Regions from separate parts of the Homo sapiens genome. Here region 1 is linked to region 2. The links come from fine-mapping of genetic effects on gene expression. A gene starts in region 2. The other region holds a variant in brackets. All regions are shown on one strand. Distances are between the middles of the regions. Region 1 holds the start of SULT1C2 (sulfotransferase family 1C member 2). Region 2 holds the start of LINC01594 (long intergenic non-protein coding RNA 1594).

What was found. PIP is the estimated chance that this variant, and not a neighbour inherited with it, causes the effect.
Region 1: its variant is fine-mapped to the expression of LINC01594 in stomach (GTEx, PIP above 0.99). The same link has a PIP of 0.9 or more in kidney cortex, pituitary and thyroid.

What each region holds. Positions count from the first base shown.
Region 1 is chr2:108,286,347-108,291,734 of GRCh38, reverse strand. SULT1C2 (sulfotransferase family 1C member 2) reads right to left here and starts at 2,840. Exons shown (of 8, transcript NM_001056.4): 1 at 2,665-2,840. The variant G/A (reference allele first, on the strand shown) is at 3,161.
Region 2 is chr2:108,215,098-108,220,485 of GRCh38, reverse strand. LINC01594 (long intergenic non-protein coding RNA 1594) reads left to right here and starts at 2,645. Exons shown (of 5, transcript NR_131251.1): 1 at 2,645-2,791.

The DNA.
Region 1 (5,388 bases), 71 kb before region 2:
AATTATCACCCTCATAAATGTGAGGAAGCTGAGAGTCACACGATCAATAACTTGCCCAGGATCGCAGCCAACATCTGTATACGAATCCTATGTTCCTTCTTTAAAAATTGCCTCTTGTTTTTTTTTATTGTGAATTTAAAGTTATACATTGCAGAAACTTTGGAAACAGTCCAAATGTACAAGGAAAACATCTATCACACAAGAGTTGTTATTATTTTGATGTATTTCTATCTGTCTTTTTCAAATGTATATTGTTGTAGGCAGAATAATGGCCCTAAAGATGTCCACGTCCTAATTCCTAATACATTACATTGTGTGGCAAAGGGCTTTGCAGATGGAATTTAGGTTAAGAACCTTAAGGCAATGAGCATGTCCTGTATTATCCCGGTGGGTCTAATGTGACCACAAGGGCACTTAAAAGTGGACAAGGGTGTAGAAGAGCAGTCAGAGAGTCGTGTGGCAGAAGAAGTGGCTGGAGAGTTTGGAAGCATGAGAATGACTCAACTTGCCATTGATGGCTTAGAGACAAAGGGGAACACAAGACAAGGCATGACCTCCAGAAGCTGAGAATGAACCTCAGCCAACAAGCAAATGGGACCTCCATCCTACAGCCACATGAATCTGAATTCTGCCAACAACCAGAATGAGCTTGGAAGGGATTCTTCTTCAGACCCTCCAGAAGGGAACGCAGCCCTGCCAACACCTTGATTTTACCCAGAGACACCTGTTTGGACTTCTGACTTACAGAGGTGTGAGATAATAAACTTGTATTGTCTTAAGCTGCTAAATTTTTGATAATTTGTTATGGCAGTGATAGTGATAGAAAACTGTTTATACATAGTTATGAACAAAAAGTATACATATATATAAACATAAAACTACAAAACACTTTTTGGATACTGCTGTGGTTTGGATGTGGTTAGTCCCCACCAAAACTCTCTGTTGAAGTTTAACTGCCAGTGTGGCAGTGCTAGGACACGGGGTCTTGTGAGAGGTGTTTGGGCCATAAGGGTGGATTCCACATGAGTAGATTAATGCCATCTCCCAGAAGTGGGTGAGTTTGGTCCCTTTATACATGCCTGCTTGCCTTTCTATTTCTTCACCATGTCTTGATGCAGCATGGCCCTCACGAGAAGCTGAGCAGATGCCAGCACCATGCTCTTGGACTTTTCAGCCACCAGAATCATGATTCAAAATAAACCTCTTATATTTATAAATTACCCAGCCTCAGGTATTTTGTTATAGCAACATAAAATGGACTAAGACGGACATTATCGTGGTTTGAATTGTGTCTCTCTAAGTTCATATGTTGAAGTCCTAATTCATAGTATATTAGCATGTGGCTGTATTTGGAGATAATGTCTTTAAATAGGTGATTAAGTTAAAATGAGGCTGCTAGGATGAGACCTATTCCAATCTGGTATCCTTGTAATGAGAGGAGATTAGGACACACAAGGCAACACCAGGGATGTGTGCACATGGAGGAAAGACCATGTAAGGACACAGTGAGAAGGTCCTCCATAGGGTGGGGGTGAGGGGATGGTGAGTCCAATTCTGGGGTTGAGTCTGATGTATTTATGGGACTTCCCAATGTACACCTGTAGGCAGGTGTACATGTGAGCTTAGGGCTCTGGCCTTGAACTAATGCCCTGAGAATAATCCACGCAACACATTGACCAACTCTGTGGTAGGCGTTGTGCTCTGGGCAGGTAGCTGATGACCGAGGGCCTGGGCACAGCTGTGAACATGTGTGGAAGGGCACCTGCTGCTGCTGAGGACCAGGGCGGTTAAGGGCTTGGCTGTCCAGTGAACTATGGATCCCACTGTATTGCTCTTGTTGGAGGCCTGCACGGGGAGTGATAGAACCTGGCTAAAGCTGGGAGAAGGAGATGCAGCAAGAGATTGAGGCAGCTGGGTAGTGCAGTGGGAGCAGAGGGATCTGCCAGTTCCCACAGGAGAAGTCCCAAGTCCTTCTCACCCTCCCCAGGCCCCTCATTGCTGGGCCACATCAGCACATGGTTCCTGCCCTTGGAGAGTCAGGCATGTAGACACATACATTTCCCCTTGAGCAGCCAGCAGGGACATTTTCATCATATCAGGCCAGATCACTATGGCCTCCTTTGTGGAGGCATCCCTGACTCTGTAAACAGAAGTAATCACTCCTTTCCATGGGATCCTATAGTATTTTGTGTGCAAATTTTATAGGTCTTACTCCACGTCCTACAATTACTTGCTTATAAGTCTGGACCCTTGGAGCACAGGATCTGGTTCAGTCCCCTTGCAGGCCCAGCATGTGTCTTAGTCAATGGCTGGCATAAGAGGAGGGCTGTCATGGAAGAAGAAATAGTCTTGGCCAGAGAAGTTGAGCTGGCCCTGGAGGAGGATGGGACAGGGAGGGTATTTGGGAAAAGATCAGGGTGGGAGACAGAGATAGTATTACAGGAGAGAGAGCTTTTGGAGGTGATTTGAGGGGGGTCCTGAATTTCTAGGTCTGAATTTTTAGGCTGGAGGCTGTTAACAAAACTCTTTTATATTATTTTATCAGATTCTTAGGATCTTTTCTGGTTTGAATAAATGCATCTGTAAAGCCACACCTATGTGGCTAAAGGTTAAAAAATAAATTAACGAGTTAGGTACAGAATTTCTTTTAAGCCATATTCTTACCTTCAAGTTCCAGCTGAAAGTCAGCAGCTCAAAGGCCCACTCAAGGGTCAGTGGGCACGGAAAGGACTTTCACAGGAAGCAGACGGCAATTGCAGAGGCTCAAATTACTACTGTGTCAGAGTTACGGGGGCGCTCAGCAGGTAGCCAGCACTTTGGGAGGCTCTCAGCTTCAGTGTGGGAAGTTGAAGCTTTTACTGGAAGAATCCGGATTGAACAGAAACAAACCCTGTGACCTGGCCCTGGGAGGGAGAACTTCTCACTGTACCATGATCACTCATGTGACCCTGACTGCTGTGCAAATACCAACTCCCTCTAGTTCATATGAACTAAGGGCACACTCTACTCCTCCTCTCGGTCACCAGCTAGAGTTTTTCACATCTTTCCTGGCCCTCAGCTGCCTGGCCCCTCCCTCCTCCCACTGGCCTCGAAGCTTAAACAGGTGGGGGCTGGGGGGAAATGGAAGGTTGGCTCTAGGACCAGATGCATCAGGCTTCAG[G/A]TAGGCTCCTGCTTATTTGGTGAACTCCCTTTTCCTTCCTCCTTAGCCTGAGATTTAATTTCTGCATCTATGAAGTGTGGGTAATACTGCCTGTCTCCAATCCATGCTTTAAGATTGAAAGCAACAATGTTGATGAATACACTTTGCAGAGCAAATAGTAAGTGCTTAAAACTGCTGGTTCTTCTTTCCTTTCTTCCCAAGTTGTATTCATCCACACCGAAAATGCAGAGAGGATAGAACAAAAGTCTAGAGCTTAGGTGTGTACTTATTTTTTCTTTGCCTTATTGTACAAAAGGTACACTTTAGTGGAGGCAGATTATATTCCATGGTGTCTTTGGTTACCTGGGAAATTAAATGGATCAAGTGTTAATGATCTCTGAACTGCTACTCTTCTGCCAGCCCCAACCTTGTATCTACCCCAGTGCTTTCCTTTCTGGAATTGAAGCATAATTCTGCACCCCATCTGCCCTTCTTGCCAAAGCTTTCCTTGTCTTCTTTGACCCTGAACCTCCTAATGCTTCTTTGCCGACACTTCTTCTTCCTCCTTGTTTCCAAAGGGCTCTTTTTTTCCCAATAAATTGAACTTTCTTTTTCTTTCTTTTTTCTTTTTTTTTTTTTTTTTGAGATGGTGTTTCACTCCTGTTGCCCAGGCTGGAGTGCAATGGTGCAATCTTGGCTCACTGCAACCTCCGCCTCCCGGGTTCAAGCGATTCTCCTGTCTCAGCCTCCTGAGTAGCTGGGACTACAGGCGTGCGCCACCATGCCCAGCTAATTTTTTTTTGGTATTTTTAGTAGAGACGGGGTCTCACCATGTTGGCCAGGCTAGTCTCCAACTCCTGCTCCCAGGTGATCTGCCCGCCTTGACCTCCCAAAGTGCTGGGATTACAGGCATAAGCCACTGCGCCCGGCTGAACTTTATTTTTCTACTTCTGCTCTCTTTCCAGTTCCACTTATCCCAGTGCTGTCAATTTTCAGCCCCATAGGGCTGATTCACAGTTCTTAGTGCAACCTCACATTTTCTCTGCAGTTAAAGTCCCTAAGTCTACTAAAGTGTCTGCCAGTATCGGTGCCATGCTGCGCTGCATGCTGCATCTCCCTGCCTTTGCTGTCTGCATGGGTCACAGTCTCTACAATCCCAGAATTTACAGTTAGTAACCACTGCTAGTATCTGCTTCCTCCACATTTGTGGAGGATGAACTGGGATGTTGCACAATCTTCTAGCAGTCTCCTTATTTCTGGTCTCTTCCCTACTAGTCTCTCATACTTTCAGCATATAAATTAAGCTCAGCTCAGATCAGGCTATCCTTTGGTTGTTTATGGCTCAAATTCTGGGTGCTTCCACTTGGAATTCAAGACCTTCTAAATTCATTAATTCTTATTTTTTATAAGACAGGGTCTCACTCTTTTGCCCAGGCTGGAGTGAAGAGGCATGATCATAGCTCACTGCAGCCTTGACCTCCTGAGCTCAAGTGATCCTCCTACTTCAAGCCTCCTGAATGCCTGGCTCAAGGCCTTCTTTAATATAACACCATCCCCACCATGGGCCCCACACACCAGGTGAACTGAATGACTTACTGTCCCCTGTATGCATCCTATAATTTCCTGCCTCCCTGGTTTACTCCTGTTTCTCCCTGCCAAAAATGCTCTTACTCTTAGCCTGGCACACTGCTGTGCACCTGTAATCCCAGTTACTTGAGTCCAGCCTGGGCAACATAGTGAGATCCCATCTCTAAAAAAATGTTCTTACTCTGTTTCCATAGAGTCAGATTCTTCAGCTTTGAACCCATCTTTTCCTTGAAGCCTTTCCTTAGGTTATAGCTGGAAGCAATCTCTCTGTGAACTACCATATGCTTTTTTAAAAATAAGTTTTATTGAGATCAAATTCACATACTGTGCACTTCACCCAAGTGTACAGTTCAATGTTTTTAGTTGTGCAACCATCATCACACTCAATTTTGGAATATTTTCATCACCCCAAAATGAAACCCCATATTTATTAATAGTCATGCCTAATTCCTCCTACCACCATCTCCAGCTTTAAGAAACCAAAATCTACTTTGTGTCTCTATAGACTTGTCTATTGTGGACATTTTATATAAATTGAATCATACAATGTGTGGTCCATAGGATTAATTTGGCCTTCTCTTACAGCAATTTTCTGTTTTTACTTGAATGAGGAAATTAACTACCCTCCCAGTGTGTCGATTGGGGCCTATCTCTAAGACCAC
Region 2 (5,388 bases):
GTGGCACAGCAAAATCAGCCTCAAACCCAAGTCTCAGCTCTAAACAGCCAGGCCATGCTGTCTTTCCGGGAACAGCCGGAGGCCTCTCCTTTCTCCTATGCCAGCTGCTTGGATGCTGGAGCACAGTGGCCTGACAACACGTGACCACCTTTAATGGACAACCATTCATTGTGTACCTGTCCAATGAACACACTATCCTTTCAGTGAGGACAGAGTGTTATCTGCCCTCAGGAACACTCTGCACCTTAGACTTGGTCCAAGTCTCCCTGGGACAAGCCTTATCTGTAAATCTATAATATTTATAATGATAATTTATAGTTGAAGGCCTGTGATAGGCAGAATGATGGCCCCGGAAGATATCCATATCCTAGTCACCAGAACCTGTGAATATGTTTGTCAGTTTCCTTCAAGTTTACATCTTGAGACTAGGGAGGAAAAAAACATGGCAAAAAGTTTTAAAATGCATTTTGGGGCTAAACTGCTCGGTTTTGAGACTGGTTTGAAGTCTGGTGGAGGCTGGGGCAGAGCTGGAGTCTGGTTTGTTGATAGCTGCATCTAGCAGGAAGTGAGGGGGAATGAGCAGGAAAGACCTTGAGCCATTGACCAGGCCCTTGGTGTTCCTGTGCCACGTGGGCTAACAAGGTCGGAGGGAGGCATAGGACACTGGCCTGTGCTTCAGGAGACTGTCCCAGGCTCTCCACAGGTGCTGCAGCTCTGAGTCCCCTTTCCTCCTCCCTCCCCACAGATTTAGATTAATCTCTTCTCTGAACAAGAGTTTAGATTTTTTTTTCAGATTTGCTGTTTGGCTTCTGTTCACAACCGTTAAAAAGTGTGAGTCATCCATTTAAAACTGACTTAATCAAAGCTTAATTTGTTATATTTCTCAGTGTCTGCCTTGGACAAATCTCTGATTTTACCAAAAGCTGCTATGTTCAAAATCCAACATCCCATACATAAAGTGTTGACTAATTAGTTCTGTCTGTGCAGCAGCTCTCACAGCCAAACCTGGCCCATGGTTAGAATGCATTAAGGGTGAGATATATTTTTTAAGCTGCCATGAGGTTGGAAAAAAGGCCATGATTCTCTGCATTTTCTTATTTTGACGTTGGTGCAATAATGTTGAAATTATTTGCAATTCAGTGTGAGGTACTCATGGCAGTACACGGCGATGGGTGGAAGTATGTTAGTTGAACATTATTATAATATTCGTAAGAATTTAAGCCCATTATTTTCTTGTCTGGTACCTAATTGGACTGCATTTAATTTATTTCTTCATCAATAAGCACTCATATATTATTTCTTGGTTATTTTATTGTTGTCAGTACTGACAACACAATTTACAAAACTTTAAAAATTACATTTAAATAGAAACTTCATTGTTACTTTAAAGACTCATATAATAAATGATAGTCTTCCAGTTTCCATTCAATTCATCAGACGTTTATTAAGCAGCTACCTTGGACCAGATACTGTTCCAAGTTTTTCAGTTTCATCAGTGTTTTACATAGATAGATAGATAGATAGATAGATAGATAGATAGATAGATAGATAGATATAAAATCTGTGCCAATGAGCTGTAATTTTAGCCATAATCTTGGACAAGAAAGTAGTGAATTTATTTCCTTTAAGGACGTGTATTTGTAACTCATTTTTATGCTGTGTCTTTGTGCTGATGATATTTTGCAGTTGTCACAGTGACTTATGAAAAATTCTAAGGGGGAATCAGGCTAGCTCCCTAAGAATCACACTTTTAAACTCATGGTTTTAAAAAGTCTGGCCATTAAGTGCAATGATTAAGGTTAAATTTGTGTACCTTTTACCCAAGAGGTCAAAAGTCAGATTGTCTTCAGAGTCTCACTAATGAACAGCACATTCAATTCATTATGGTGAAAGATGCTTGAATTTTGACCACCACCCCGTCTTTAGACTATTTAGTGTCACTATAAAGGAATAGCTGAGGCTGGGAAATTTATTTTAAAAAATGTTTATTTGGCTCATAATTCTGATGGCTGGAAGACTGGACACGTGGTGAGGGACTCAGACTGCTTCCACTTCTGGCAGAAGGTGAAGGGGGTCAGTGCATCCAAAAATCACATGGTAAGACAGGAAGCAAGAGAAGGGAGTTTCCAGGCTCTTTTTAACAACCAACTCTTGTGGGAAGGAATAGAGCAAGAGCTCACTCACTCCTGGGGAGGGTATTAATCTATTCCTGAGGGGTCTCCCACTATCACCCAAACACCTTCTGTTAGACCCCACCTCCAACATTTAGAATCAGATCTCAACATAAGGTTTGGAAGGGACAAATGTCCAAACCATGGCAATCTCTTTCCCAGGGAATACTCATCCTGTATATTTTTCCATGTGAGATCCAACCATAACCTAGGCATCTCTTGTGAGAAAACAATGCTGGTAGAATTCTGAGATTCAGTCCACTGGATACCTGTGGGAGGCCTTGAATGTTGCCTTTGTAAATCATCTCTAGTTCTGGCCATGTGATTGTTGGGCAATGGGCAGAGGCTGAGAATGGTCTTCCTGGAGCCTCCAATTTAGTGAGCAAAGTGTAGAGTATGTTAGAAGAGATGATACTTGTGATGGAAATGATTAGGGCAGAATAAGGGGAACCAGGAAGTGCTGGATTGTAAGTAGAATGATCAGGGAAGACATGACTGAAATGATGCTTTCTGGGTAAAGATTGAAGGATATGAGGAGAGGGTCATGTAGCTGTTTGATCGAAGAGCATTCTTGGCAGAGGAAATGCCAGGCCAAAGTCTCTATGGCAGGACTACACTAGGTGAGTTCAAGGAAGAGTGGGGAAGTCACTAGGTCTGAAGAGAAGTGAGTGTGCAAAGGTTAGAAGGTGGTTAGAAAGGGACCTGGGGACAGATGGTGTAGGACAGGAGACCGTGATACAATTCAGCTTAGACTGAATGGGTTGGGGCACTGCTGCAGCATTTTGATCAGCACAGTGATGTGATCCATTTAGGATCATATGGTGACTGGGTAATTATGACATAGAAGGAGGGATATTCATTAGGTTGTGATTGCAAGTCTTCAGGGAAGACACGCCAGTGACTCAGAGGAGGTTGGTCACAGTAATGTTGATAAGAAGAGGTCATGTTCTGGATATAGTTTGAAGTCAGAGCCAAATGATGTATGGATTGGATGTAGTGTGCAAGAGAGAGAGAAATAGAATAAGCTTTGGCTGAGCAACTGAAAAGATGGAGTTGCCTTTTAATTGAGATGAAGAAGACAGTGGGTGAATTAGGTTTGTGGGTTTGACTTTTTCTGTTTGAAATGTATATAAAACAAGGAAGTAGAGATATGAAGTAGGCAGTTGGGCTGACAATTTAGGAATTCAGGGTTGAGATCTGAGGTGGAGATAAAAATTTGGAAGATGGTACCATGTTGCAGAAATTTAAAATCCATGTGAGAGAATGAGATTATCTAAGAAGCGAGCCAGAGAAAGAAGAGATAGAAAGCAGAAGTAACATAAAAGCTGTAATACTATTTAAGCCTTTTTCTCTGTTTTTATGATGTTTCTTTTATAAGGATTATTTTTAAAATTTCTTTGCCACATTATTCTAATGAGTCCACTGTCTAGTTTTACGAAAACACATAATAATGTTCCTCAATATCTATATTTCACTATGCCACTCGACCTACCCAGCATTTAAAGGTGCACTTGAGTGTTTATGAAACGTTCTTTTAATCTCCTGCTATATAAAAAGGAAAAAGTCAAAAATATTAACAGCTGATGGACAAAGAAATAAATTACGTATTTGCATGTGGAAATAATAAAGCAACTTAGAACTAAATCACAAAGTTATCTGGGAAGGACATTGAATGTTTTATTGTAAATCTTTAACATAACTCAAAAATTAGTAGTAGTATTGGAGAACATGCAAACCTCATGTTAGTTTACATTTCAAAATCAATTATTCATGTCAGAAACATGTTCAAATTTCTGTGAAAGTTTAGAAGATATGTATCACAAATAAAAGCATTTCAAATGCTCACACAGGATTTTTGGGAGAGAGGAGAGAGAAACCACATTAATTTAAACAAGAAAAGTTTAATACAGAGAATGATTAACTCTAACAAGAGATTGGAGTAACGAGGTGTTGGCAAGTAAGAAGTAAAACTCTGAAGAATATAGGAATATCAAATATAAGGAACAGCCACTATCCCTAGGGCTGAGATAGAGTAAGAGCCTCTTCGAAAAGAACCTGTCTTCCCATGCCCACCAGGACTGAGACCCAGACCTTATGGGAGAGGACGTGGCATGACTCATGGGACAACAGAGAAGCTACTGCGGTTCAATTCTGGAAGAACTTGCTCTACTCTCTGAAACTTGCAGGAAATCCACCCTCTAGGGTGTGGGGAAGGTGTTCACAAGGATGTGTCTCCCTGGAGGCATCCTACTACAAAACCATCCTGGGAGGAAGCTGGGGAAGCACTGGACACCCCCACTGCAGGAGCTGAACCCTGGGGAAGCCATGTGTGCTGCAGGAGTGGGACCTAGAGGAGCTGGCACAGTGGAGAAGAACCACGGGAGCCTGGCCAGTGAAAACCCTGAACCAGGAAGCAAAACTCTTTCCTCCCACAATGTCTCTCCAGTGCTCTCTGCTGACAAGGTTTCAACATCACAGCAGCTGGCAAAGGAAAAATATTGAAAGGGTTCAGATTCAGTTTCGCAGAGAGGGCAGACAGTGAATTTGGACTGAGAAGCAATCAATCGATTACTGGACAGCATGGAAAAATTCGTATGAGTTTGTGTAGTTTTATAAAATTATCAGAGTCTATCAAAAACACATTTTAAAAGTCACACACATCGTTAAATACCAGAGCATTTCAATTACTATCTAAAGTTTTCATTACATTTTTATATTCCAATAAACATGAAATTTCCTGATATTTTGGCATAGTATCAAAGTATTTTGAGTGATCAGACAGAAAATTTAGAAAATTGAAGTATTCCTTTTCTGAAGGAGTGTGTGTGTGTGTGTGTGTGTGTGTGTGTATTCTGTGGTAGTGGAGTAACAACCACAAGGATTACATTTATTTTAAGAATTGTAAAATATACGTAACATATAATTCACTATTATTTTAACTATTTTTAAGTGTACTATTAAGTAGCTTTAAGTACATTCACAACGTTATGTAACCATCATCACTATCCATTTCCAGAACTTTTTCATTATCCCAAACAGAAACTATACTCACTAAAAATGTCTCTATTACCTTCTCCTCCAATCCCTGGTAACTTCTACCTTCTCTCTCCATAAATTTCACTATTCTAGGTGAGTCATAGAATGAGGGAGGTATTTTTCTGTCTCCAATTTTTTGAAGAGTTTGAGAGGGTTTTTGTTCGCATTTAAATGTTCAGTG